Homo sapiens: one gene and its partners. Changing the gene in region 5 together with the main gene of any one other region gives a genetic interaction. Each region holds a gene or a part of one and is shown on either strand. Other genes may lie near its edges.

Region 1 (3,500 bases), on a different chromosome or scaffold from region 5:
CCCTCCGTTCAGCCTTGTCATAGGGATGGGAGGCATCACCCGTGTTGCTCAGCACACACGGCCTGGCCCTCTGCTGTGTCCATCCCTGCGTTCCCTCCCTCAGCCCTCACAAGAGCCCTACAGCTGTGGATACTATCAGCACCATCTTACAGGCAGAGAAAGTGAAGCTCAAGAGCATGGAGGTAACTTCCCTGTCCCACAATGAGATTCTAACCCTCATCTGCCCAGTCCATAACTATCAACCGTTTTTTTTTTGTTTGTTTGTTTTTTTGAGATGGAATTTTGCTCTTGTCGCCCAGGCTGAAGTGAAATGGCATGATCTCAGCTCACTGCAACCTTCGCCTCCCAGGTTCAAGAGATTCATGCCTCAGCCTCCTGAGTAGCTGGGATTACAGGCATCAGCCACCATGCCTGGCTAATTTTGTATTCTTAGTAGAGATGGGATTTCACCATGTTGGTCAGGCTGGTCTCGAACTCTTGACCTCAGGTGATCCTCCCGCCTCGGCCTCCCAAAGTGCTAGGATTACAGGCATGAGCCACCGTGTCCAGTCATCAACCTTAATGTACATTACTGCCACTGGACTCCAGCCGGAAGACGTGGCTTGGGGTGTGCCAGACGTCTTCCCTTTGCCCCTCCAACCCCACTCTCTGCCTGTCTCTACCCTGCTTCTGCCCCAAGGCTGACCAGTGTACACTGCACCAACAGGCCTGGTTTGGGTTAGCCAGAGAGGAGCCCAGCAGGAGTTTGGGGCAGAAAGTGAGGTCAGGGCATCTATTCTCCCAGGCCCTCCCTGAGGGGTAGATACGGGCCAGCTGCATCCCAGGACCAAAGTCTACTGCCCCTGTCAAGGTGCCCTCTCCACAGGCTCTCTCCTCTGGGTCGTGGTATTTGCTCCTCTCCGCTGAGCAGACCCAGAGCTGGGGAGCAGCCCTCCCTGTGAGCCCCATACCCTCTTTGACATGGTGTAAGTGGTCTCTTTACTAAGCCCTCCTCTTGGGATGCTAGTGGGCTGTGCCCTGCAGGTCCCACTGGACGCTGGCTCGTGCTGGGGCCTGGCCTCCCCCCGCCACTCCACATGCCACGGCTGTGCCCACCTTGCTGAGGAGCCTGCGCCAGTGCAGCCGCCAGAGCATGAGGGCAATGATGAGCAGCAGGAGCAGGATGATGGCCACCAGGCAGCCGATGAGGATGGCGGTCGGGCTCCCCTCGGCCTTGGCCACGGGCTGCTGGCCTCTGGGCTCCAGCTCTGGTGGAGGCAGCAGGGTCAGCACCACAGGAGGGTCCCACCCTAGCCGAGGGGGAGGCCCAGGGAGAAGGGTGCAGAGGGTCCACACGCCCACCCAAGATTGCTCACCCAAGCTGCTGAAGTTGGTGGGAGGTGGGCCAGGCGGCCACCAGGGGGCTGGCGGGAAGGTGCCTCCCAGTGCCGGAGAGGAATTGTTCACCACATCTGGGGAGAAGGAACAAAAAGAAAGGAGGGAGGTAAATGAGGAGGAGACCCAAGGGAGGCAGAGGCAGTGGACTGTTGTGCAAAGGAGCAGAAGCATGGGTGATTCTCAATAGGCAACCACTGACCAGTGGGGGCTGGGGGAGCAGGGTCCTGGAACACCCAGCTGTGGTGGGTGTTAACCCTATAGTTGCTGGATTGTGGGGAGGTGGAGGACAGGTATCTGGAGGCTTAGAGAAGAGGCTATTTCTCAACTAATACAGAAGTATTTCAATATTTTAACAACCAGTACTGTCATACTGGCTCAATAATAGTCACGGGCAAGGGGCTTACAAAGGAAAGATGGATACGCAGAGAACAAGAGGCAGAAAGGGGCTCAAGTTATTTGGGGCACCCCTAATTGAGAAGTTTCGGTGGGTGATGGGTAGATATAATGCAAGGAATGAGTATTTTAGGGACACTGCAGGGTTAGGAATGAAATCAGTTGTCAATTTCAGGGACTGGAGACTGGGCTACTCCAGGGCTTACCAGAGATGAAGGAGATTTCGCTGAAGAGTAACCAGGGCCCCGCAAAGAGGAAGCGGCACTGCAGAAAGCGAGCCACACGGCCGCCAAGGGGCACTGAGACAGCCCGGGCTCTGGGGTCCCCCAGGTTGCCCCCTAGGTTGTGGCGCATGGGCTCCCCCTCCCAGGCCATGGCAGGGCCACGCCGGAAGCGACATTCCACCCCGCCAGGCAGACGGGCTCCCAGCGTGTGCATGTTGTTACAGTGGACCTGGGGGGAAGGGAAGAGGGCACAGGGTCAAGGCTAGGAGTGGTGGGGGCACCCCAACGGCACCCTGCATGGCTTCAGAGCCCTCCTCGAGAGCCGGACTCACTCACCTGCATAGCCTGGAAGGCCCTCAGCCGGTCAAACTCAAACTCCATCTCCACATAGCCACTGGAGAAGCTGTGGTTGCTCCATCCCACATAGTCATAGCCTGGCCAGACCCGCAGCTCCTGACTCTTCCTAAAGTCATCCAGCCCCACCACACCATCTGCCAGCTGGCCCAGACCCCCATACTGCAGTCTGGAGAAGAGGGGACCAAGGAAGAGGAGGTTGGAAGGGAAGAGGGTCTTGACATCCAGGCATTCTGCTCCGCCACCCTCCGGCACAGTGGCATGGCCAGCCTGGCTCCCATCCACTAGTCCCATTCCCATCCCACCTCACACTCATGCAGCTGGCCCTTCTCCTCTCTCCACCCCACCCCAGCACTACAGGTACCTTGCAGGTCACATCCAGCACAAAGGCACCACCTCTAAGGGGCACCATTTCAATCTATGATGTGTATATTTATTGCAGCAATTTCCAACAATGTGTGTTAGCAAAGGGGTGCCTTTTTCATACAGTGTCATACGGGCTAGTGGTCACCCTAGTGCTACCCTTTGAGGCCCCACCTAACCCATCCCTCTTCTCAGCTCTTCCATCTCACTCCCCACCCTACTTACCAGCCCCCCTACACACACACACTCTCACACACACACACACACACACACACACACAGTCCTCCCTCCCACCCCAAACTCCATATCCTGCAGGGGCCTTTCTTACCCGCCCACGGTATGTCCGTCATAGGTGGAGTCGTTGAGGTACACGGCCTCAGATAAATACATTGTCTGCCCCACAGGGGCGGTGTAAGACAGGAGTCCATCTGGGGCAGGGTGAGAGGATGGGGGTCAGAGGCACTAAGGCTCCATCCCCCATCCCTGCATCAGGCCTGGGCAGGTTTCAGGTCCCTTCTTGTATCTCTCCACTGGCTCATTGGCATGGAGGAGACAATGCTGGCTAGCCCCCTCCTCAGAGTGACAGCTTCCCAGCAGGAGAAGGGATCCTGGATGCCCATTCTCCACACTCCCCACCCTCCAGTCCCCTGCTCAGGAAACAGATTCCCAGGAAGCTGAGCCACTCACCCCTCCAGAGGCAGCCATAGAGCTCTACCCGCAGACAGACGCTCATGACCCGGTCAGCCCGGGGGTAGAAGCGAACCAGTCGGGCAACCATGGGGGGCCCAA
Region 2 (4,139 bases), on a different chromosome or scaffold from region 5:
ACCTTCTATGGTGTAGTGGAAGATGCTGGGCTGGACGTCCAGGGTCAGGCTCCCCCGGGCGTTCTGCAGCACCTTCTTCTTCAGGGCCTGGGAGAAGTCCCTGGCCACTGCATCCACCATCGGGAGGAACCTCTGCACGGCCTTGGGCGACAGCACATCTGGGTTCAGCCGCAATCGGTTGAAGCGCCATTCAGGCCCATTCCTACAGAGGCCAGGGCAGAGCTTGTGAGGCCGCCCCAGCAAGACACAGGCCCTGACCCGTATCCCATCCTCCTTGTCCCCAAGGGGAATCGGCCTGCAGGGAGCTGACTGGGGGCCCTGGTAGAAGCTGCCTGTTTGTGTTCGAGCTGCAGCCTTTTCTCAGAGCGGCCTCCAGGTGCTGGGCAAAGGCCACTCAGGTCTAAGCAGGGATGAGATGGTAGCTTCTGCCCACAGGTGCTGACAGGGTAACTGAGGTCATTCCCGGGACCTGGCGACCCAAGTCTGGCACCACCTCACCCATGCGGGCCCTCCCTGTAGTAACAGGGTAGGGCTTTTCTCCAAGAAAGGAGGTGACCCCTGTTGTCAAGCTTTGCCCACCTCACCCACACAGTGTCCTGAGGGGAGAGCCCCTGGCTGCCCTCTCCTCCCCACCCTTCCCCGCCCTGGGCACAGTGCCTCTGGGGCAGCAGCCTCTGCCTGTCTCTGTGAAGCATCTATATCTTCTGCAGGACAGAAACCAAGCTTTGTGCTTCATGCCATCCTCACCCACAGCCAGAGTGCGTGGGGGCTCCATGGATGCCCCCAGGGAATGGTGGGGAGGAATTTCCCCTGTCAGCCACATTCCTGCAAAACTCCTTTATTTATGTCCAGCTGGCTGCTGTGAGCTGTTGACAGTGATGACAGGCAGAAGATGCACATGCACACGTGCGCCCATGCAAGACCTCAACACCATGTGTGAAGAGACGCATGTGCATGTGTGCACAAACACTACACCCATGCCGGCACCTGCACATGCACACACACAGACACTTGTGCACACACACCACACATACATTCACACACAGACACGTGCACACACTACACATGTGCAAATGCAGGTACAGAGAAACACACAGCATGTGCACAGATGCAAGACACACACACATACAGGAGCGCTCCCCTTCCTTCCATTATGCGCACCCAGCCTCCTGGACCTGCCTTCCTGGGTCCTGACTCTCTCCCAGATGTCATCTATAGGCCAGCCTCAGTGAAGGCCCCGACCCACGGGTGCCCTTTTACCTAAACCCCACTATTCCCAATAGCGTTCCCTTCCTACCATGGAGTGGGGGCTGTCACCACTGTGACATCCTCATCCAGTCCTTCCCCCGTCCTAATGACAACATCCCTGCAGGTGACCGACTCCAAGCATCAGCCTCTCCCTGCCCACCTGACCAGGCGCCACCCTCTCCACGGGCCAGGAAACATCCTCCCCAGTGCCATCAACCGCCCCACCTTGTGCCTTGCTTCTGAGAACAACGGAACCACCAGCCACCTGCGTCCCCACCTGCCTCCTGCCCCGGACTGTCCCCATCAGGAAGGTTTGCCAGGACTGCAGGGACCCTGAGCGCCCTGAGGGAGGCTGTGGCCCCGGCGAACACCAGGCTCAGCACTCAGCCTGTGACCTGGGCCAGTGGAAGTCCCCTTCTCAGGGCCTCAGTTTTCTGACCTATGGGAAGGACAGTCCCCAGACCGCAAGAGAAAGCAGCCGCCGAGGTTGGTGCAGAGCGGGTTCTCACTACACAGAAGGGCTCATTGCTCTGCGTCTTCTCTGCAGAGGTGCCCGTGCCCATTTCTCCACCACCGCCCTGCTTCCCCAACCCACAGTGCAGACGCGACCCCACAGGATGGCCGTCCTCTGGGCCGGGTGCTCACCCTCACTGCCCACCACAGGGGCCCAGGGCAGATGTGCTTTTGGGTCCTACCTCTCTCGCCTCCCCCCTACACCCAGGCTGCCCACCCTGCTCCCAGCTCTCAGCTCCCAACTCGCCGCTTACAACAAGAACACGCCACATTTGTGCCCACGATGTTGTCTGTAGGCCACCCAGGGCTCCAGGATCATCCTGCAGGGATGCAGGCTGTCCACCTGTTGCAGCTTCTCCACATCCTCCGGCAGCATCACACACACCATGCGTGGTCCTCCCAAGTTGTACCTGTGGGGCCAAGCAGGAGGCCCTGCTGGACGGGGTCATGTCCCTCGTGGCCCCACCCTGCAGTCCCAATCCAAAGTGTCTCCTGTCCACCCTCCCTGCTCCTGGATTAGCGGCTTCACAGCTAAAGCCCTCCTGCTGGCTCCCTGGAACCTTTCAACTTTAGTGCTTCTGAGTCCTGCCCTCTCTGCAGTGAGCTGGGGTTTTCTCTGCACTATCCCCTGCCCTGGCAGCACCACAGACCAGCATGTGCTGCACTCCTTCCCCATCCTCCAAAGGATGCAGAGTGCCGGGACCTGCTGGGAATGGCAGTGCTGAGTGCCTGGCAGGGTCCTGGGCAGCAGGGGCAGGGATCTGGGTGTTCCCAGCGAGGGCCAGGGAGGGCTTTACCTGAAAATGGGCCCCAGCTCCTGGAAGGTCTGGTGCATCTCCAGGTGCAGGTGCTCATAACCCTGCTCCCTCCAGATCTGCAGCAGCCTCAGCCACCTGTTGCCTGGATGCTGGGGCATGGCTTCAAACGGCAGCACCGTCCTAGGGGCCCGAGCGGCTCTAGTGCCCAGTGCCCGTGCCCTTTGCAGGGACAGCCAGGGCGCTGCCACGCACACCTCTGCCTTTGCCCTGAGTGCCATTCCAATGCTCCCTCCACCCTGTTCAGCCCAAATCCTTTTATCTCACCCAGGAACCTGCTCTGGAAACATATCACGTCATGGGAGAACTGGCTCTGGACCTGCCTGAGACTCTCAGAGCGAAGGTCAAGGCTGGAGGCCCCCAGCCAAAGGTAGATGAAGGAGAAGTCAGGTGCCTAATTCCCCATTGCTGCAAGTCCTGCTGGTCTGAGGATGCTGAGAAAAGGCGTGGGGTCTGGACTGGGGGTCCATGCTGGTGGAAGGTGGTGGGACCTGGCCTCTCCTTTCTCCAGGGCTGAGAGGAGTAAAATGGATGGGGACTTTATCTTATCGTGAGATGAGAGGGAGCCTTGGATTCTTTTAATAGACTTTATTTTTATACCACAGATTTAGTTCATTGCAAAATTGATCAAAAACTGCAGAAAATGTCCACGTACCCCCTGCCCTGACACAGGTACACCCTCCACCACAGGAGCGCACTGGTTCCATGTGAGGAATCTCGATACGTTGTTATCAACCAGGGTCCTGGAGTCACATGGGGTCTCCTCCTGGTGGTCAACATGCTGTGGGTTTTGACAAATGTATGTAATTTGTATCCCTCCTTGCAGGATCCTAGGAGTATTTTCACTGTCTTAAAAAGAGGAAAAGAAAACCTGTGCTCTGCCTGCTCATCCCTCCTGCCCCAGTCCCTGACATCTCCGATCTTTTTATCATCACCATGCTTTGGCCTTTTCCAAAATGTTGTATAGTTGGAATGACACCGTTTGTAGCCTTTTCAAAGTGACGTATCTCAGTTAGTAATATGCGTTTAAGGTTCCTCCATTTCTTTTCGTGGCTTGATAGCTAATTTCCTTTTTTTTTTTTTTTTCTAGAGGCTGGGTCTCACTTCTTTAGTGGTTGCCCTAGAGTTTGCAATATACGCTTAAAACTCATCTCTCCAACTCCACCTTCATATAACACTATACAGCTTCAGAGGTAATGCAAGCACTTTATAATCATCAGATATTCTTAGGCTGGGCATAGTGGCTCATGTCTGTCATCCCAGCACTTTGGGAGGCTGATGCAGGTGGATCACCTGAGGTCAGGAGTTCGAGACCAGCCTGGCCAACATGGCAAAACCCTGTCTCTACTAAAAATACAAAATTAGCCAGGTGTGGTGGCGCATGCCTGTAATCTCGGCTTCTCAGCAGGCTGAGTCAAGATGAATGCTTGAATCAAGGAGGCGGAGGTTGCAGTGAGTTGAGATCATCCCACTGCACTCCAACCTGGGCAGCAAAGCAAGACTCCATCTCAAAATAAATAAATAATAAGATATTTTTAATTCCACTCACCCATCCCTTGCATC
Region 3 (4,094 bases), about 22 Mb from region 5:
CAGGGCCACTCACCACAGCCGTGTAGAAGGTGCAGATAATTCCGGTGGACAGGAGCGACGCCCAGATGTCCAGCCCGGTCACTATGCAAAAAGAGGTCCCCCTGTTAGGCCCCTGGGCGGGGCGCAAACTTAGTCTTGGGTTCTCCTCTCCCTCCCTTTCTCTTCCCAGACATGCTTCCCTAATCTCCCAGAGTCACACCTTGGTTCAGGATGAGGGCCGGTGCGTAGATTACGATGCCGGTGTACAGCATCTGTAGACAGAGTGTGGGGCGGGTGAGCAGGGAGGGCGTCTGGGCGAGTTGGGGATGGGGAGAGGAGGCAGAAGGGTGGTCCCAGAATATGGGCGGGGCAGATAGGCCGGGTCTTCCAGAGTGCAGGCGGGGTCAGGCCGGCTGTGGTGTGGGAGGGGACTGATGGGGGCGGGGTCAGAACGGGAGCATGGGGGGCGGGGTCTGGGCGGGGTCTTGAATGGTGGGGGCCGGGCTAGTGAAGGCTGACGCTCTCGGGGCCCTGAGCGGAGGGCGGGGCCGAGGCCACTCACCGTGGCTACAATGTACTGCAAAGTCCCGCAGAGCCGCACTGCGCGGCTGAAGCGCATCTCCAGGTACTGCAAGGAGGGACTCGAGGTCACCTGGACAGTCCTTACCCAGGAGCCGAGGCCTCTCGGGTCCCTGGTCTGCTCTCTAGGTGGGCCCCTCCCTCCGGAAGCCAACCGCGCCCGCCAGATTCTTGCACGTGGGGGCCCCGCCGCACGCACACACCCGTGCACAGGTGCCATCCCGTGCCTGTGCGTACCCCGTGGACCTGGAGGACTGGTCCATGCGTGTGCACGCGCCCTCCCACTTGCGCCTGACGGGCGCGGGCTCCTGGAGCAGCCACCGCTCAGCAGACACCGACGTGGCCCGCAAGCGCACAGTGTAGACAGTGCCCCGGGCCAATGGTGTTGGCCGCCTAGGATATACCTGTCACGATTTTTTTGGGGGGGAGGGGGGACGGAGTCTCGCTCTGTCGCCCAGGCTAGGGTGCACTGGCACGATCTCGGCTCACTGCAACCTCCGCCTCCCAGGTTCAAGCAATTCTTCTGCCTCAGCCTCCTGAGTAGCTGGGATTACAGGCGCGCGCGACCATGCCCGGCTAATTTTTGTATTTTTAGTAAAGACGGGGTTTCACCATGTTAGCCAGGCTGGTCTTGAACTCCTGACCTCGTGATCCACCCACCTCGGCCTCCCAAAGTGCTGGGATTACAGGCGTGAGCCACTGCGCCCTGCCACAATATTTTTTTTTCCTTTGAGACAAGAGTCTCGCTCTGTCGCCCAGGCTGGAGTGCAGTGACGCGATATCGGCTCACTGCAACCTCCCGGGTTCAAGCAATTCTCCTGTCTTAGCCTCCCAAGTAGCTGGGATTACAGGTGCCCACCACCACATCCGGCTAATTTTTGTATTTTTAGTAGAGACGGGGTTTCGCCATGTTGGCCAGGCTGGTCTTGAACTCCTGACCTCAGGTGATCTGCATGCTTTGGCCTCCCAAAGTGCTGGGATTACAGGCGTGAGCCACCGCACCGGGCCCCGGTCACGATTTTAATCGCTTTACCCTCTCCCCTGGAGGGAGGTCCTGTAATTCGCCCATTGGACAGCTGGGAAACCCAAACAGAGAGGCACGCCCCTTGCCCAAGATACAAGAAAGCAGTGAAGCCAGGTTTCGAACCCCGGAGCCGTCAGCAGTCCCCTCTAGCGCGCACACGTGGGTCTGCACGCCCGGGCAGGTGGGGGGCAGGTGTGTGTCCACCCGTGAGGACACACCTGGTCGAGCCGGGCCCCGCCCCGCGCGCGCTTCCACCGAAGGAGCAGGACGCCAGGCTCTCTCTTCCTCCTTCCTGCCCCTCGCCGGGCGCCTGGGGCCTCTTCCTAGAACCCTCCCCACGTGTCTGCCTAGGGGCCCCTTCCGTTAAAGCACCGAGGTGCCATCCGCGTCCTCCTGTACAGCGGCCCAAAGCCCCAGCGCCTCCCCCACACGGGGTCCCAGCACTGCCAGTGGGGCAGGTCCTACCCCCGGGCCTCTGTCCGGTACCTCGTAGGTGCTGGTGAGGCCCAGGCGGTAGAAGACGGGCATGAAGAGCAGGGCGGTGAGGACCGAGTTCAGAAGCTGGCCCAGGCACATCCAGAGGAACTTGAGGCCATAGCGATAGGCCTCCGACGGCACGCCCAGCACCTGCACGGCCGACATGAAGCTGGCAGACAGCGACAGGCCCACGGGCAGGGCCGCCAGGCGCCGGCCCCCGGTGAAGAAGTCCTCAGCGCTGCGCTGCCCGCCCCGAGCCAGCCCGACCCACAGCCCGATGCCAGTGGACACCAGGAGCATGAGGGCAAAGACCCCGTAGTCCCAGGCTCCGAAGGTGGGCCGTTCCCCGGTCTCCACGGCCTCCATGAGGGCGGGTGCGGAGGCCCAGCGCGTCCTCGGACGCCCTGCGTGCTCAAGCGGGGGAAGCTGGCAGGGGCCGAGGAGGCAGGACGGGGAGGGCGGGTGGGAGGATGCTCGGCAGCCTGTCCCCGCTCCGTCTGGGGTGGGAAGCGGCGAGAGGGGCCGGGGCTCCCTGGGTTAGGAATCTATGGGCTGTCGATGTCCGTGTCGGCCTCCCTGTCCCCGCTGTCTGTCTCTGCGTCCGCCCCTGCTGTCTGTCTGTCCTGCCACCTCCCCTCTCACTCTGGGTTCCGCTGTCCCATGCAGCCGGCTGTCTGTCCCTCTCCCTGGGCGCTGTGCTCAGCGCTGACAGCTGGAGGTCGCCTTGGGGCTTACGGGAGCAGCTCGTGATTGTGGGTTGCAGATTTATTGGGCTCCCGGGTCACCGCGACTCCGCCTCCAGACCTAGGGGCGGGCAGGACCCGCACCCTTTCAGCCCTGGACTGGGACAGACAGGCCAGGACAGGCTATCTGGGTGGCTGCAGGGGGTGGTATCGGGGAGGGCTCCCAAATGCCCCTCCATCCCCATGCACCCACCCATCCCCATGCACTGTGATCCCCTGATCACAGCTGTCACTGTCTGCTGTTGACAGGTGGGGAAATTGAGGCTCAGAGAGGGCATGTCACTATCCAAGCCTGCACAGCCTGCTTCAGCACTCAAAGCCGTATTGTGCTTGAATACCTTGAGCTATGGGGAGCTCACTTTCATGCAGGACTGGGGTTCACTTTCAGGGTTTCAGGGGACCCATAAAGAAAACTTACCTGGCTTTACCACCCCCAAACTGGCATGTGGGCCTACCCCCTTTCTCTAGAGCCTTAGGGGGTGGGCATCACTGAACCCCGCTCTTGGGCTAAGCTGGGTGGGAGACATTCAGAGCTCAAGTTCTGAGTGGGTACATACTTGGGGAAGACTTTGCTCCTCCCTGGGCCTTAGTTTCCCCATCTGTAACAAGGATAAAATAGACCCTGCCTCAGAGGAATAAATGGGACGTGGTAACGAAAGCCTGGTACATGATAAGTGCCTCATTCATTTATTCCTTTATTCATTTGTCACTTCATTCATTCATTCATTGGTTCCTTTGCAGATATGCACTGAGAGTTGGCCCTGTGCCAGGCATAAATGGCTCACTGAGGTGGTGCGAGGGGCCTTTAAGGTTATGAACCCGAATAAGCGGAGACCATGACCACCAGGGAGGTAGAGTCTGGCTTGTCCCTATCATATAGATGAGGAAACCAAGGTTGGGTGTGGGAGAAAGTCTACTGGGGGGGTCACGCTTCCATGAGGACCAACGAGCTGTCATCTCAGGGCCCTTCTCTGGGGGACCCAGGAGGACTTTGACCTCTGGAGGTTCTGGTCTCTGGGTTCAAGTCTCAGCTCAGCCTCCAACTTTCTGGGCAATCACGCATCTCAAACTTGGTTCCCTTCTCCATAAGCTGGTGGAATCTGAAATCCTGGGGGTTGAAAGAAACAGCGTCAGAGGCCGGGCATGATGGCTTATGCCTGTAATCCCAGCACTTTGGGAGGCTGAAGTGGGAGGATCATTTGAGTCCCAGAATTCGAGACTACCCTGAGCAACATAGTGAGATCTTGTCTGTATGAAAAATACAAATATTAGCGAGGCGTGGTGGCACATGC
Region 4 (3,500 bases), on a different chromosome or scaffold from region 5:
TGGCCCAGCTATATGGGAGGCCAAGATGGGAGGATCGCTTGAGCCCAGGAGTTAAGGCTGCAGTGAGCCCTGATCACACCACTGCACTTCAGCCTGGATGACACAGCGAGATCCCGTCTCAAAGCAAACAACTAGGCAAAGCACAAGCAGTGGACAGAGGGGCCGGGAGAAGAGCTCGTGGGAAGCGTGGGGTAGGGGCTCATGATGGGCAGCCCTGGGGCTCCCGGCGACCATTCTCTGTCTTGACCCGGTTGCAGGGACCTGGCTGTCCTTTATAATCAACTGAGTTGCCCGAGTGGCTCTGTGTGACCCGAATGCTGGATGCATCGTGTGGGGAGAAGCCAGCCTCGGGGACCAGGGCTGCCCAGGAGGCCCCGTCCCACGGTGACTGGCTGTGCCTTGAGGGCTAGGACCTCACACTGTGGCAGGTGTCCTCAGCACACCTGGACCCCTTCTCTCCCAGTGACATCCACAACCAGAAACACAGCGATGCACACCAGTGATTTCCATGCACTTTAATGAGGTCCAGCACTCAGGAGGATTAGCGCCCACCACCAGCTATCTGGGCAGGGGAGGGCTGGAGGGCCCGGTGCAGGCGTCAGGCTTAGGACAGGGAAGGGGGCTCAGGATAGGGAAGGGTCCTCAGGACAGGGGAAGGGGCTCAGAAGAGAGCAGGGGGCTTAGGACAGGAAGGGGCACTCAGGACGGGGCAGGGAAGGTGTGGGGGGCAGTCGCCACCTGGGTAGGAAGCAGTGGTGTTTTGGACAGCAGGGGTTGGTCCTCCAGTGACCCAGGTGGCCAACCCAGGCCTGACTCACGGCTTTTTGGGGACATAGTGGTGGATCCAGTCCAAGTAGTAGGTGACACGGGTGTAGATGCCAGGCCGGTTGGGCTGGGCACAGCCCTCGCCCCAGCTGACCACGCCCGCCTGCAGCCAGGTGCCATTCACCTTGCACACCAGGGGCCCTCCGGAGTCGCCCTGGGAAGGTCAGAGGTCAGCGCTCGCCGAACAGGCCTGGGAGTGGGGGTTGGGGGGCGGGGGGCGGGGGACAGGCGGGGCCCACCTGGCATGAGTCCCTCCGGGTGTTCCCGGCACACAGCATGTCGTCACGGACGATGCGGACGTCGTCTCCCGTGTAGGCGCCAAGGTGGTATTTTGCGTCACAAATGTGGTTTTCCATTATGGGGACCTTCACCTGCTTCAGAGGAAATGGCGGTGGGAGGCGCTCTGCAGGTGGGGAAGAGGGTGCAGCCTCAGGAGGGGGCCGGGCAACCCCCACCTGGAGCCCAGAGGGAGCCCAGGGGCTGGGCTGTGGCTAAGACCCTGGCCCCACCTCCACTGTCCCCAGACCCACCATCATTGTCCACATCGCCCCAGCCAGTGACCCAGCACGGCATCCCCGGGGGGAAGGTCTCTGAGGCAGGGGGCAGGGTGACCGTGTGGACGTGGCTGGAGACGTTCACCGGCTCCTCCAGCTCCAGCAGGGCGATGTCCGCTCCGATCTGGGCGGTGTAGAACTGTGGGTGCACGATGATCCTGCTGACCGGCAGCAGCTGGTCCTGGTAGTAGAGGTGCTGCTCCCGCAGTTGCACCCTGAGGGCGGCCAGATCCTTGACGTCCCTGGGCAGCGGAGGATCCCACTCAGGGCCCTGGGCAGCCCCCAGGAGCACCCGGGAGCCAGGGCTCACATCCAGCCCTTCCCCACCCCTCCAGGCCCCGGGAGACTCACGGTCCCACGCAGTGCGCTGCGGTCAGCACCCACTGGGGGTGGATGAGGGAGCCCCCGCAGAAGTGCATCCAGTATGGGCCGTGGACTCTCAGGCTCACCTGCCAGGGCCACTTGCTCCTGGGGGCCTCCTGACCCCCGACGATGCCCACTCGCTGCAGGGCCTGGCCTGGGGCTGGGGCAGGTGCCAGGTCAGGACCAGGAAGCAGCCCCAGGCCTGGGCCCAGCCCTTCCCTGTGTGGGGGCCAGCCCGACCTCCCCAGAACCCACCCAGGCCCTGACCTGTGGAATGTGGTGAGGGGCAGGGTGGACCCCGGCTGGGACTCACCAGGGGCCGCGTAGGCGCGGCTCGCCAGGACGGGCAGCGCCAGCAGCAGCAGATTCAGCATCTGGGGAGCAAGGAGGAGCATCGTGGGCCTGGCCGGGCCTCACAGGGCAGGGCTGGGGGCTACAGATTGTGGGGTGAAGAATGGAGCTGGGACGGGGGGACCGGGGTGGGTCCAGGCCTGCGGGCCTGGGTCTTGGTGCTCTGAGTCTGAGGCTGGGCCACTCTGCTCCAGGTGACGCTGATGTCAGGGTCTCTGAGAGTGGGGACTTACCCTGGCCGCTCCCTGTTCCTTCTACCCAGTGGGCTCTCCCCTCCCCATTTATCCTTCCAGATCAGGAGGGGGCGGAGGAGGGGCGCTGGGTCCTCCCATCCAGACTCGGAGGAAGTGGATGACTCAGACCCAGGGCCCCCGTGTAACACGTGCCCCCGCCACCCCGATGCCCTCTGTGTGTGGGGCTGCCAGGCAGGCCCCGCTGAGGGCTGAGCACTGGAGACTGGCAGCTCCACCTGTCAGCTGGTGGATCCCAGCACTGGAACCCACCACCTTCCCGCTGGTGGGATCTGCTCCTGCCCCTGTCTCGGTGCCAGGAGGCCTTCAGGCATTGCTGCACCCAGGTGGCCTGGCTGCCCCAGGCTACAAGACCCGTCGCTCCTGAAACCTGTTTCCCCAAGAGGGACACGGGTGAGGAACTCATGTCCATGGGCCACGCTCCAAGAGACGGGAAGGTGCCCACGGGGTGGGGACATGACGGGTGACACCCCTCCTACGGACTCCGAATCCACGGGGGTGGGGCCAGCCCTCCTCGACTCACTTGGTTGGGGGCTCACGTGAGACCCCTTTGTCAGATGGGGAAACAGCCTTGAGAGGGGACAGCACCAAGTGTCCTCAGCCAGGAAGGGGCCCTGCTCCCCACCCGCCGTATGAGACCCAAGTCCTCCTACGAGTCCTCAATGTCCACCTCTGGGGCTGTCCGTGCAGGTCCCCTGGTCTGCAGGTGCCTCCTTATCATGGGATCTGAGCTTCATACGCAGAGGGAAGAGCAGAGAGGAGTGCAGGTGCAACCCCAGGAGGCCCAGCCCAGCTCCCCATGGACTCACCCCCAACTTCAGCCCCAGCTCCCCATGGACTAGTCCCAGCCCCAGCCCCAGCTCCCCATGGTCTCATCCCCGGCCCCAGCTCCCTGTGCTCTCCATCCCATTCAGCGCTGACACTGTCCCTGCAGGTCCGTCCACCCCACCTCCCGACTCCCCTGGGCCTGTTGGTCACTGGGGCCTCCAGCCCACCTCCTCCGCTTCTGAGCCCCAGGACCCCCTGCCTGCCCCCCGACCCCCAACACAGGGCCACTCCGGGGCTCCTCCTGCCCCCACCCTGCCTGGGACCAGCCTGGTTTGGGGCTGACTCTGCACTGCGGGGCCATATCCATCTGGACTCCTTCCGGGCTGCA
Region 5 (3,500 bases):
CCCCTCCCTCCTTCCCCAATAAATAGAGTGAACATCCTGCCCAGGGCCTCCCCCACCTTGTGGCATGGCGGGCTGGGGCAGGGCCTGGGGCGCTACATTCATGGCTGCCCAGGCGGGCGGTGGTGGGCAGGCCTTAGTGGGAGCCGTGGGCCCCGCACAGGGGCACTGTGCTGTCTTGGTTCTGCCCCTCCATGTCCATGTCCAGCAGTGTGGGCTGCACGCTGGGGGGCCCAGGGCTCTCCGGAGTGTCTGGCCTGCTGGGAGGCGAGATGGTGAGTGTCCGGCCGAAGGAGACCAGTTTCCAGGGGTCCAAGCGGGGGCGACTGGCAGCCGGCCGAGGTCTCGGGGCAAAGGTCAGGGTGGTGGGGCGGCCTGGGAACTCAGGGGGCCGGCGGCGGGCTGGGAACAGGGCCTGGGGGTCGGGCAGGCGGGGGAAGTCCAGAAGGTCACGAGGGCCTGGTAAGAGAGGTTCAGAGGAGGTGAGTGGGGTGGGGCAGAGGGTGGCATTAAAAAGCCCAGAGCTGTTACATGAAAAGCACAAGTTCTGGTTTCTCTCGAGAAATCCGTGGATCTTGCTGCATCCAGTTTCCATCTGTAGTGTGGCAGTGCTGGGACCTTGACCTAGACTGGGACCACTCCCAGCTGCTTGCTCCTCTGGGTGGACCCTGGCATGTTCCTCAACCTTCTGGAACTGCTGCTTAGCGGCAGCCTCGGGGGCCAAAGCCCTGGTCTTCCCGACTCTCCTGCACTGGGCTAAGCTCAGGCATGGCTTAGCTCTGAAGGGGGATAAAAATGGTGCCTCACCACGCAGGTGAGGAGCAAATAGAATAACCATAACTTAAAACAAGCAGCACAGTGCCTGACGTGGGTACTTAATAACACTGCTATGGCCGCATCTCCCACCCAGTTAACAGATGGAGGAGAACAGTGTCTAGGCTGTGTAAGAATTGGCGATGGTCATGCTGGTCACAACCGCTATAGGCACCTGCCTGGCCTTATAGGCATCAGTTTGCCGCCTGTGTCTCAGTCCCCTGGAGACCCCCGATGCCTCCAGGAGTGAGCGGTAAAGGGACACAGACCCTCCCTCCTCCACAAGAAGCAGGAGGTGGCTGCCTGAGGGGTCGTGGCTGGGCTGGACTTGCGACCCTGGCAGAGGAGGAAAGAAGGGGTTTTCTGTGACCTGGGTGCAGGGCGCCTCACTCACCAGGGCCATGGCCCGCGGGCTCGGGCGGCCCCCGCTGCCCCAGCGCCCCGTCCGATGGCGTCCGCCGGTGCCCGCGGCTCACAGCGCATGCAGCCGTGACGTGGGTGGGCGTGAGCGACTGGCGGGGGTCCTTCTTGAAGCTCTCCAGCTCCAGGTCCACCAGGGGGTTGGTGCTGGGCGAGGGCGTGGGTGTGGGCGCGGGCGGGGAGGGTGGTGGGGAGGGCGCGGCCGGTGCGGCCTCGTCACTGTCAGAGCGCAGCAGTGAACGCGTGGAGTTGCAGTCGGACACGGACGACAGCGACACGAGGGTGGCCGAGGGCGCCAGGCCCAGGCCGGGGCCCACGTCTTCGCGGCGGCCGTGGGGACGCGCGGGTGGGCTGAGGCCCCGCGGGAAGCGGCCGGCGCGGGGAAAGAAGAGGCCGTCGAGCCAGCGCCGCTGCTCCTCACCGTCGGCCGCGCGCGCCTCGGCCACGTCGGCGCCCAGGCCCACAGCCCCCAGCAGCGTGGCGCAGCCTAGCAGCGCCAGGTCGCAGCGCCGCCGGGCGCCGTGTCCCCACCGAGCGGGGGGCGCGGACGGCGTCGGCTCCCACGGCGCCCGCGCCCCCGGGGAGGGCTCGGCAGGCAGTGGCACTGAGAGGTAGGACGGGGTCGAGTAGGGGGAAGGGGGCACGCTGCTGCCTCCATCCTCTGCCTCCGCGAACTCCTCTGCAACCGGAGAGGGCCATCACTCCGCTGCAGGGCTGGCCAGGGCCCCACGGGGACTTGTGCCAAGGGACAGCCCCCGATGACCCCTCCAACAGCAAGACCAAGACCCACGAGCATCGTTCTTGAATCTGTCTCCAGGAGAAGCCTCAGAGAAGGGTGGTCCCTGCCCCTGGAAATGACCCCCCACGCCCCAGGGGCCACCATCTCCCTTCCCAGGAAGGCCTTCCACTCACTGGCCCAGTGAAACCTGGTCTCTTCGCTCAGCCCCAGGAGGCTCACCCCTTTGGCCAGGGAACCCCCACCCCCTTACAAGAACCCAGGCTCTTACCCATCTCATTGAGGCTGGCAAAGCCAGGGGCGATGGGTGTGTGTTTGGGGGACTTGCCCAGGTTGGGGGCACTTGATGACCACTGTTTGCTTCCTTCCCCCAGCCCCTTCAGCCTGCGGGGTCCAGGGAGAGATGGAGACCTCAGTCCTGTGGCCTGGAGCCTGGGAGCTGGGGCTTGGGCACAGGGTGGGCATGACCACACCACACCTCACCTCTCCTCTCCTCCCACCCGCTCCTTCTGCAGGGTGGAGCTGGGCCCCCACGTTCGTCCCTTCTTCTTGCCCCCGACCAGTTCTTCCTTCTTTGGGGGCCCACCGCGGCTCCATGTCCCACTTCCTCCACTGCTGCTGCCACTGCTGCTGCCACCACAGTCCACGGGAGTCACTGGGTCCAGAGAAGCCACTTGGTTACTGGGTGGAGGATCTGTCCCCACTGGGCTCCCAGCCTCCAGTGCCCCCAGCTCAGGCCCACCCTCCGCCTGGGAGTCCAAGGGCTCTTTTGAACTCCAGTCATGACCCTCCCTGCTATATATCTCCCCATAGCCCCCTACTGCTGTCAGGACAAGGTTCCAGCTCCTCCGCCTGGCACTGAAGGCCATGAGCGGTTCCCTGCCAACTCCTCCAGCCTCCCCTCCTCTTCACAGCCTAACCCTTCACCATTCATTCTGGCGGGCTGCCTGCGCTTCTGGTCTCCAGCTCTGGGTAGTTAGTTCCCTGGGGGTCAGCTGCCTTCATCTCTGTACCTGCAATGCTCTGGACCTATCTGGTGCCAGTGTTTGCTGCCATGGTATGGGTATTTGTCTCTGTGTCCCCTGCAGGACTGACCTCCTGGGCCTGGTACAAAGCAGGTGCCCAGACAGAGGGCAGGGGGGCTGTGGGTGGGGACAGTGCTGGGGTGAATGAGGTGTTGGAACTTGGGAGCTAGCCTTTCACCCTTCAACCCACCAGGAAACTCCGATGACCGTGTCTCTGCCATATAGCCCCGACTGTGGACATCTGTCCCTTCCAAGTCCCCCACCCTGGCCTGGCCTCCATCATCTCACTGCTTTCTCCACCTTTATTTCTTACAGCAGCCAGAGGGAAAAAGGTCAATTTGATTCCCTCAGTGCCTTGCTCGCATGGCTCTGGGGGCTGCCCCAGGGCAGTTAAAAGAAAATCCATACCAGGCCAGGTGCGGTGGCTCTTGCCTGGAATCCCAGCACTTTGGGAGGCCCAGGCAGAAGAATCACTTGAGGTCAGGAGTTGGAGACCAGCCTGGCCAACA
Region 6 (3,500 bases), about 25 Mb from region 5:
CCCCAAGTGTCCTCGACCACAGCTGAGCCACACACATGATGACTTCTCCATATGATCCCAGGTTAAACAGAAAAGATATAACCAGGTATAATATTGAAACTATAGGCGGCTATTTATGGGACCCCTGGGGGTAAGGTGAGCTTTCGGACAAGAACTGAGCTGCTAGGACCCATGGTTGACAGATAAGAGAACGGCTGCCTTAAAAGAAAAAGTGATGCAGAGAAATGGTGAAATTAAGAAAAGGAGACAGATCCCTGATAATGTTCATTGACACCTGGATTCAGCCATGCCTGAAGACCACCCTCCCTGAAATTTACACTCCTTTGACTCTCTTTATTTGCTTAGAGCACACGAAGTTGAGTTTCCATCACTCACAACTGAAAGAGACCTCAGCAGCCAGAGAGCTGGTGACCTGCACAGAGTCACTAAGGATTTGGGGGTCAGAGCCATAGATTTTGTGGGATGCTGCCACTTCCCTAGCTCAGCCTGGTGTGTCCAAGGATGAGAAGAGCAGAGAGCAAGGGGAGGTCAAGCAGCTGGTGTGGGTTCTCCTATTGGAGAATCCTGAAGCCCATAGGAGGAGAGCAGGAAACTTAGGGTGGATGAGTGATAGGATGAGGTAGAAGGAACTGACCCATCATAGGTGGATGTCACATAAATAGCAGCCCAGATTCTCCACCAGCCACAAATCCTCCTACCGCTTTGGACTGAGGGATGGGCAAGGCTGGTGCAAGGACTGGCTGGGACCCCAAATACCAATGATGCCCACTGCATCATCCTGCCCCACACTTAAAAAATCCTACTTATTGGTCTAGACATAGCTCCAACAACTCTTCCTCCAGGAAACATTCCAGCCTGCCCCAGCAGACACCCAGTTCTCTGTGTTGTCATACCCATCTCTCTCTTGCCCATTCCTGACCCTATGAGGCTGGAAATGTCTCTGTCTAGACCCGTGTCCTTAAGCATGGGGGTTCCTTCCAGAAAGGGCCCTGAATTGAGGCCTCTTGGAGCCCCAGTGGTGCCCAGAACACCAAGACAGGGAGCAGATGGCAATGGAGGGAGAAGACATTGAGAAGGAAGTCTCAATGAGGGGCACGAGTACTCAAGGAGGGACGTGGGTACTGCAGAGACCACACAGAAGCTTGGTCTGGCACCCACCACCACAAGCTCTGCATGGGTACCTGAGGCATTGGTGATAGACCGGATGGTGTCAGGGTGGCATAAAACGATGAAGGGGATGATGGGACCCAGCCATACCGTAAAGCCCTGGGAATAGGTGGCCGACATCTGGGTCGAGTTCTTCAAGCCCTCCTCTGTAGGAGTGATCTGAAAGCAAGTCAAGGGCTGTCACTTCCTGTGATGGTTAATTTTAGGTGTCCACTAGACTGGGCTAAGGGATGCCCAGATAGCCAGTCAAACATTATTGCTGTGTGTGTCTGTGAGGGTGTTTGAGAAGAGATTAGCATTTGAAGGTAAACAGGATGGAAATAGTAGTGCAGAGGAATGAGTGAGTGAGGAAAGGAATGAGTGAGTGAGGAGAGGAATGAGTGAGTGTGGAGAGGAAGGAGTGAGTGAGGAGAGGAATGAGTGAGTGAGGAGAGGAATGAGTGAGTGAGGAGAGGAATGAGTGAGTGAGGAGAGGAATGAGTGAGTAAGGAGAGGAATGAGTGCATGGGTAGAGGAATGAGTGAGTGAGGAGAGGAATGAGTGAGTGAGGAGAGGAATGAGTGAGGAGAAGAATAAGAGTGAGCAGAGGAATGAGTGAGTGAGCGAGCAGAAGAATGAGTGAGTGAGGAGAGGAAGGAATGAGTGAGGAGAAGAATGAGTGCATGGGTAGAGGAATGAGTGAGTGAGGAGAGGAATGAGTGTGTGGGTAGAGGAATAAGTGAGGGAGGAGAGGAATGAGTGAGTGAGGAGAGGAATGAGTGAGTGAGGAGAGGAATGAGTAAGTGAGGAGAGGAATGAGTGAGTGAGGAGAGGAACGAGTGAGTGAGGAGAGGAATGAGCGAGTGAGGAGAGGAACGAGTGAGTGAGGAGAGGAATGAGCGAGTGAGGAGAGGAATGAGTGAGTGGGTAAAGGAATGGGAGGAGGGGAATGAGTGAGGAGAGGAATGAGTGAGTGGGTAGAGGAATGAGTGAGTGGGTAAAGGAATGAATGAGTGAGGAGAGAAATGAGTGAGTGAGGAGGGGAATGAGAGAGTGAGCAGAGGAATGAGTGAGTGAGGACAGGAATGAGTGAGTGAGGAATGAGTTGAGTGAGGAGAGGAATGACTAAGTGAGCAGAGGAATGAGTTGAGTGAGGAGAGGAATGACTAAGTGAGCAGAGGAATGAGTGAGTGAGGAGAGGAATGAGTGAATGGGTAGAGGAATGAGTAAGTGAGGAGAGGAATGAGTGAGTTGGTATTGGAATTAGTGAGGAGAGGAATGAGTGTGGGTAGAGGAATGAGTGAGTGAGGATATGAATGAGTGAGTGAGCAGAGGAATGAGTGAGTGAGGAGAGGAATGAGTGAGTGAGGACAGGAATGACTGAATGAGGGGAGGAATGAGTGAGTGAGGAGAGGAATGAGTGAGTTGGTATTGGAATGAGTGAGTGAGGAGAGGAATGAGTGAATGGGCACAGGAATGAGTGAGTGAGGAGAGGAATGAGTGAGTGGGGAGAGGAATGAGTAAGTGAGGAGAGGAATGAGTGAGTGAGGAGAGGAATGAGTGAGTGGGTAAAGGAATGGGAGGAAGGGAATGAGTGAGGAGAGGAATGAGTGAGTGGGTAGAGGAATGAGTGAGTGGGTAAAGGAATGAATGAGTGAGGAGAGAAATGAGTGAGTGAGGAGGGGAATGAGTGAGTGAGGAGAGGAATGAGTGAGTGAGGAATGAGTTGAGTGAGGAGAGGAATGACTAAGTGAGCAGAGGAATGAGTGAGTGAGGAGAGGAATGAGTGAATGGATAGAGGAATGAGTAAGTGAGGAGAGGAATGAGTGAGTTGGTATTGGAATTAGTGAGGAGAGGAATGAGTGTGGGTAGAGGAATGAGTGAGTGAGGATATGAATGAGTGAGTGGGCAGAGGAATGAGTGGGTGAGGAGAGGAATGAATGAGTGAGAAAAGGAATGAGTGAGTGAGGACAGGAATGACTGAATGAGGAGAGGAATGAGTGAGTGAGGAGAGGAATGAGTGAATGGGCACAGGAATGAGTGAGTGAGGAGAGGAATGAGTGAGTGAGGAGAGGAATGAGTGAGTTGGTATTAGAATGAGTGAGTGAGGAGAGGAATGAGTGAATGGGCACAGGAATGAGTAAGTGAGGAGAGGAATGAGTGAGCCGTCTCCCTTGGTTCTCTGGGTTCCCAGACCCCAGCCACCATCAATACACAGCTCCCTGAACCCCTACTGGAAGTCCCACCCCTCTGGAAGTCCACCCACCCTGAGACGCCAGACCCCATCCAATCCATTGAGGGCATGAACAGGACAAAAGGCAGAGGAAAGGAAGAACTTGCTCTCTCTTCTGCTG
Region 7 (3,500 bases), 8.4 Mb from region 5:
ACCAGGCCGTCGTCGAAGCGCGCATGCGGAGCTGCCACCAGGTCAGCGCCTAGGTGGCTGGGCGAGATGGCCAACATGAGCACAAAGTCCCCCTCCAGCGTCACCCAGTCTGGGGGCAGCGGGGTGCCCAGCGGAGGCAGCAGGTGGTCGGGCGGGCCGCAGGTGGAGGCCCCTACCCGGGCATCAGGGGTGGGAAGTGGGAGCCCAGAGGATGGGGGAATTACGGGGGCCCCTTCGGAGACGGGTGAGTGTAGAGCTGCCTTGGGAGAGCCAGGAGGTGAAGACAGCAGTGGGTCCGGGGACAGCGGAGCATCCCCAGCCCCACCCCAGTCCCCAGCCAGCTCTGGGCCCCCACCGTTGAGGGACAGGATGGGCAGGGGTTCTGGCGAGCCAGGAGAGGCCAGGGCAGGCTGGGGCAGGGGAAGAGGCAGGTCAGACACAGAACGATGCAGGGGTGAGTGGGCCATGGGCGGGGCTGGGTCTGGGGTTAGGGTCAGCTCCGACTTGGCACGAGGCAGGCTATGGGCAGGGGTGGGCGAGGCAGGTTCCACAGTGGCGGGGAGGTAGGAGAGGCGTCCGCGGTAGGTGTGCAGTGTGGCGAGGCCCAGCACCGTGCCCAGTGTGAAGCGGGCACTGCCCAAGGCCCTGAAGCGCTCGCTCTGGATATCCACATCTGACACGAAGCCCCAGGCCACAGACAGGAAGGAGAAACAGCGGGAGCCCGAGGCCAGCGTCACGGAGAGCAGGTCCAGTGGGTGGCCACCACCCCGGCACAGCAACAGTGAGCAGTTGAGCAACAGGTCGAGGCCCAGGGCTGGCTCAAATCTTCACAGCCGGAGATGGACGGACACACAGAAGGAAGGAGCAAACAGGGGTTGGGGAAAGAGACAGGTAGGAAAGCAGCTGGCAATGAGACCACGAAGGCCATGGCCCAGGCCCACCACAGCCGTGGGGCCACCTCCAGGCGACTCCTTACGGGGCCAGGTTCCTGGTCATCTTTCATTTGCTCCCTACAATTCACTGAGTGCCTCCCATGCCAGGCAGAGTTCTGGGCGCTCGGGATACAGCTGGGAAGCAGGCAGGCAAAAATGTCCAGGAGCTGGGGGTGAGCATCCCACAGGCAGGCTGATTTACTTGACTGACTGTGGGTTTGGCTGAGTGGGAGATATAGGGGTCCCTATCACCCCAGGAGGGGCTCATCCCTCCCTTCGTGGTATCCTCAACCTACCCCCCGTGCTGGTTCACTGCTCCGGCCAGCGCGTTGCCCGAGCCGCAGGGGAGGATGCCCACAGGCATCTTCACAGCTTCCTCCCAGTCAGGGCGATCTAGGAGCCCGTTCAGCACCTGGAGGGTGGGAGACCAGAAGCCTGGGTCCTGGTGGCAGTCTCTATAGTCCCCCAGGGCCCAGGGCTAGGGGCAGGGTGCTCCTGCTCTACCTCATGGAGCAGCCCGTCTCCCGAGACCGTGACGATGCCATCCCACTCACTCAGGCTCAGCCCCTGGACCAGCTCCCGGGCGTGGTTCTGTCGTTCTGAAGTGGGATACCGGGCTGTTAGGCAGGCTGTCCCACCCCAGCCCCATAGACCCAGGAGTCCCACCCACCACTTTGCTCCCTTAGGACTCAGCTGTCCCAGCCCCCAGCTCCCATTCTCACTGGCCCTTACCTGTCTGGATGAGGTTGAAGGACAGCCCAGCTTCAGAGATCATGGGAAGCACGTGGTTCTTACACCACTGCCAGGCCAGGCCCCGACCCCCAAAGGGATTGACCAATAGAAGCAACCGGGGCGGCCGAGGTAGCAGGTCAGGGGTGATCTCTGTGGAGAGAGGTTAGGGTCTGCAGAGGCCAGTGACCCAGGCCCCCCACCTTGGAAACAGTCCCTTCATCAGCCCCCAACGGAATTGGTGGAGGGCTGGCCCCTGGGACCTGCTGGCTCTCATGTGGCCAGGCCTAGGTATGCAGCCCTGCCCCAACTCCTAGCTGCTGAGACAAAGGCAGGGCTTAGGTGTGAAACCAAATGCCCTTTGTCCCCATGTGTGGGAGGAGCTGTAGTTCAGAGCTGTGGTTCCCACTTTCCTCACCCCAAACACCTATTACCCAGGATTAGGTTACTTCCAGCCCTTAGGGGCCCCAGGCAGGATTAGATGCCACCTCTGAACTCCAGGGAAGCCCTAGACCTCTGTTGGCACCCATCACTCTGGGTGGTACCTGGTCCTGTCTCAGGCTGCTGCTCTCACCACCCTGGGTGACTCACCTGTGGTCAAGACCCATGCAAAGGGGAAGAGGATAGGAGACAGAAACATAAATCTAGCAAGAGAACAGCAGATGTAAATCACTTTTCTCTGCCTGCGTTTTTGTTTTGTTTTGCTTTTTGTGATGGAGTATCGGTCTTGTCGCCCAGGATGGAGTGCAATGGTGCAATCTCGGCTCACTGCAGCCTCTGCCTCCCGGGTTCAAGTGATTCTCCTGCCTCAGCCTCCCGAGTAGCTGGAATTACAGGCATCCGTCACCATGCCCGGCTAATTTTTGTATTTTTAATAGAGACAGGGTTTCGCCATGTTGGCCAGGCTGGTCTCGAACTCCCGACCTCAGGTGATCTGCCTGCCTTGGCTTCCCAAAGTGCTGGGATTATAGGCATGAGCCACTGCACGCGACCTCTGCCTGTGCTTTTTTTTTTTTTTTTTTTTTTTTTGGAGACAGAGTTTTGCTCTTGTTGCCCAAGCTGGAGTGCAATGGCACGATCTCAGCTCACTGCAACCTCTGCCTCCTGGGTTCAAGCGATTCTCCTGCCTCACCCTCCTGTAGCTGGGATTACAGGTGCGCAGCACCACACCCGGCTAATTTTTTGTATTTTTAGTAGACATGGGGTTTCACCATGTTAGCCAGGCTGGTCTCGAACTCCTGACCTCAGGTGATCCACCCGCCTCAGCCTCCCAAATTGCTAGGATTACAGACATGAGCCACCACATCCGGTCCTCTTGTCTTTTTGTTCCTTCTGTAGCCCATCCCTGTGTATCACTCCTAACGGATCCAGAGAGATACATCACCCAGACACACAGAAAAATAAAGACACAGCTGCCTATGGAGGAAATTCTGCAGAGACACCAAGGTGGCTCCAGGATAGAGCAGCTGCCCAGCACCTCACCCCCATCCCCGGGCAGTGGCAGTCCTCGGAGCAGACAGGTGAGGGCAGTGGCCCAGCGCTGGGCCTCGGCACGGTTCTCTTCGTAGGTGGCGGCCCCATCTGCCCGGAAGGTGCGAGTGGCTCTGCGCCGGGCCCCGCGCCGGCCCCGAGGGTAGGTGTAGATGCAGAAGTAGGCCGCTGAGTCTGAGGGGCTGCGGCTTCGCAGGGTGCAGCAGCCTGAGACCTCGGCCAACGGGACCAGGCCACCCCGGGGCCTGGCTTCAGGTTTGGGGCGCAGCCGCTGTATGTGCAGGGCCTGCGATGTAAGGGTGAGGGCAAAGCGTGGGCCTCGGGCTGGGTAGGAGCCAAACTCGCCAT

What was found.
Region 1: changes in MAP3K10 (region 5) and DDR1 together harm fitness more than expected from each alone (negative genetic interaction), as found in Homo sapiens cells (one large-scale study listed by BioGRID).
Region 2: changes in MAP3K10 (region 5) and CYP11B2 together harm fitness more than expected from each alone (negative genetic interaction), as found in Homo sapiens cells (one large-scale study listed by BioGRID).
Region 3: changes in MAP3K10 (region 5) and SLC5A5 together harm fitness more than expected from each alone (negative genetic interaction), as found in Homo sapiens cells (one large-scale study listed by BioGRID).
Region 4: changes in MAP3K10 (region 5) and TPSAB1 together harm fitness more than expected from each alone (negative genetic interaction), as found in Homo sapiens cells (one large-scale study listed by BioGRID).
Region 6: changes in MAP3K10 (region 5) and CYP4F12 together harm fitness more than expected from each alone (negative genetic interaction), as found in Homo sapiens cells (one large-scale study listed by BioGRID).
Region 7: changes in MAP3K10 (region 5) and SPHK2 together harm fitness more than expected from each alone (negative genetic interaction), as found in Homo sapiens cells (one large-scale study listed by BioGRID).

The regions. Positions count from the first base shown.
Region 1 is NC_000006.12:30,891,019-30,894,518, reverse strand, and holds part of DDR1 (epithelial discoidin domain-containing receptor 1 isoform 2 precursor), read right to left. Parts: coding exon 3,399-3,500; intron 3,140-3,398; coding exon 3,040-3,139; intron 2,518-3,039; coding exon 2,331-2,517; intron 2,224-2,330; coding exon 1,977-2,223; intron 1,452-1,976; coding exon 1,356-1,451; intron 1,248-1,355; coding exon 1,096-1,247; intron 14-1,095; coding exon 1-13. UniProt on the Homo sapiens protein: Tyrosine kinase that functions as a cell surface receptor for fibrillar collagen and regulates cell attachment to the extracellular matrix, remodeling of the extracellular matrix, cell migration, differentiation, survival and cell proliferation.
Region 2 is NC_000008.11:142,915,044-142,919,182, forward strand, and holds the start of CYP11B2 (cytochrome P450 11B2, mitochondrial precursor), read right to left. Parts: upstream 2,801-4,139; 5' UTR 2,798-2,800; coding exon 2,559-2,797; intron 2,172-2,558; coding exon 2,016-2,171; intron 203-2,015; coding exon 3-202; intron 1-2. UniProt on the Homo sapiens protein: A cytochrome P450 monooxygenase that catalyzes the biosynthesis of aldosterone, the main mineralocorticoid in the human body responsible for salt and water homeostasis, thus involved in blood pressure regulation, arterial hypertension, and the development of heart failure.
Region 3 is NC_000019.10:17,870,651-17,874,744, reverse strand, and holds the start of SLC5A5 (sodium/iodide cotransporter), read right to left. Parts: upstream 2,801-4,094; 5' UTR 2,426-2,800; coding exon 2,069-2,425; intron 988-2,068; exon of another isoform or gene 796-987; intron 608-795; coding exon 542-607; intron 252-541; coding exon 200-251; intron 82-199; coding exon 14-81; intron 1-13. UniProt on the Homo sapiens protein: Sodium:iodide symporter that mediates the transport of iodide into the thyroid gland. Can also mediate the transport of chlorate, thiocynate, nitrate and selenocynate.
Region 4 is NC_000016.10:1,239,555-1,243,054, reverse strand, and holds TPSAB1 (tryptase alpha/beta-1 precursor), read right to left. Parts: upstream 2,351-3,500; 5' UTR 2,327-2,350; intron 2,117-2,326; coding exon 2,056-2,116; intron 1,903-2,055; coding exon 1,731-1,902; intron 1,622-1,730; coding exon 1,356-1,621; intron 1,229-1,355; coding exon 1,065-1,228; intron 980-1,064; coding exon 815-979; 3' UTR 501-814; downstream 1-500. UniProt on the Homo sapiens protein: Tryptase is the major neutral protease present in mast cells and is secreted upon the coupled activation-degranulation response of this cell type. May play a role in innate immunity.
Region 5 is NC_000019.10:40,211,926-40,215,425, reverse strand, and holds part of MAP3K10 (mitogen-activated protein kinase kinase kinase 10), read right to left. Parts: intron 2,622-3,500; coding exon 2,450-2,621; intron 2,351-2,449; coding exon 2,238-2,350; intron 2,038-2,237; coding exon of another isoform or gene 1,910-2,037; coding exon 1,205-1,909; intron 777-1,204; coding exon of another isoform or gene 760-776; exon of another isoform or gene 525-759; intron 457-524; coding exon 134-456; 3' UTR 1-133. UniProt on the Homo sapiens protein: Activates the JUN N-terminal pathway.
Region 6 is NC_000019.10:15,676,087-15,679,586, reverse strand, and holds part of CYP4F12 (cytochrome P450 4F12), read right to left. Parts: intron 1,327-3,500; coding exon 1,182-1,326; intron 1-1,181. UniProt on the Homo sapiens protein: A cytochrome P450 monooxygenase involved in the metabolism of endogenous polyunsaturated fatty acids (PUFAs).
Region 7 is NC_000019.10:48,626,006-48,629,505, reverse strand, and holds part of SPHK2 (sphingosine kinase 2), read right to left. Parts: coding exon 3,144-3,500; intron 1,815-3,143; coding exon 1,665-1,814; intron 1,532-1,664; coding exon 1,437-1,531; intron 1,345-1,436; coding exon 1,229-1,344; intron 826-1,228; coding exon 1-825. UniProt on the Homo sapiens protein: Catalyzes the phosphorylation of sphingosine to form sphingosine-1-phosphate (SPP), a lipid mediator with both intra- and extracellular functions. Also acts on D-erythro-dihydrosphingosine, D-erythro-sphingosine and L-threo-dihydrosphingosine.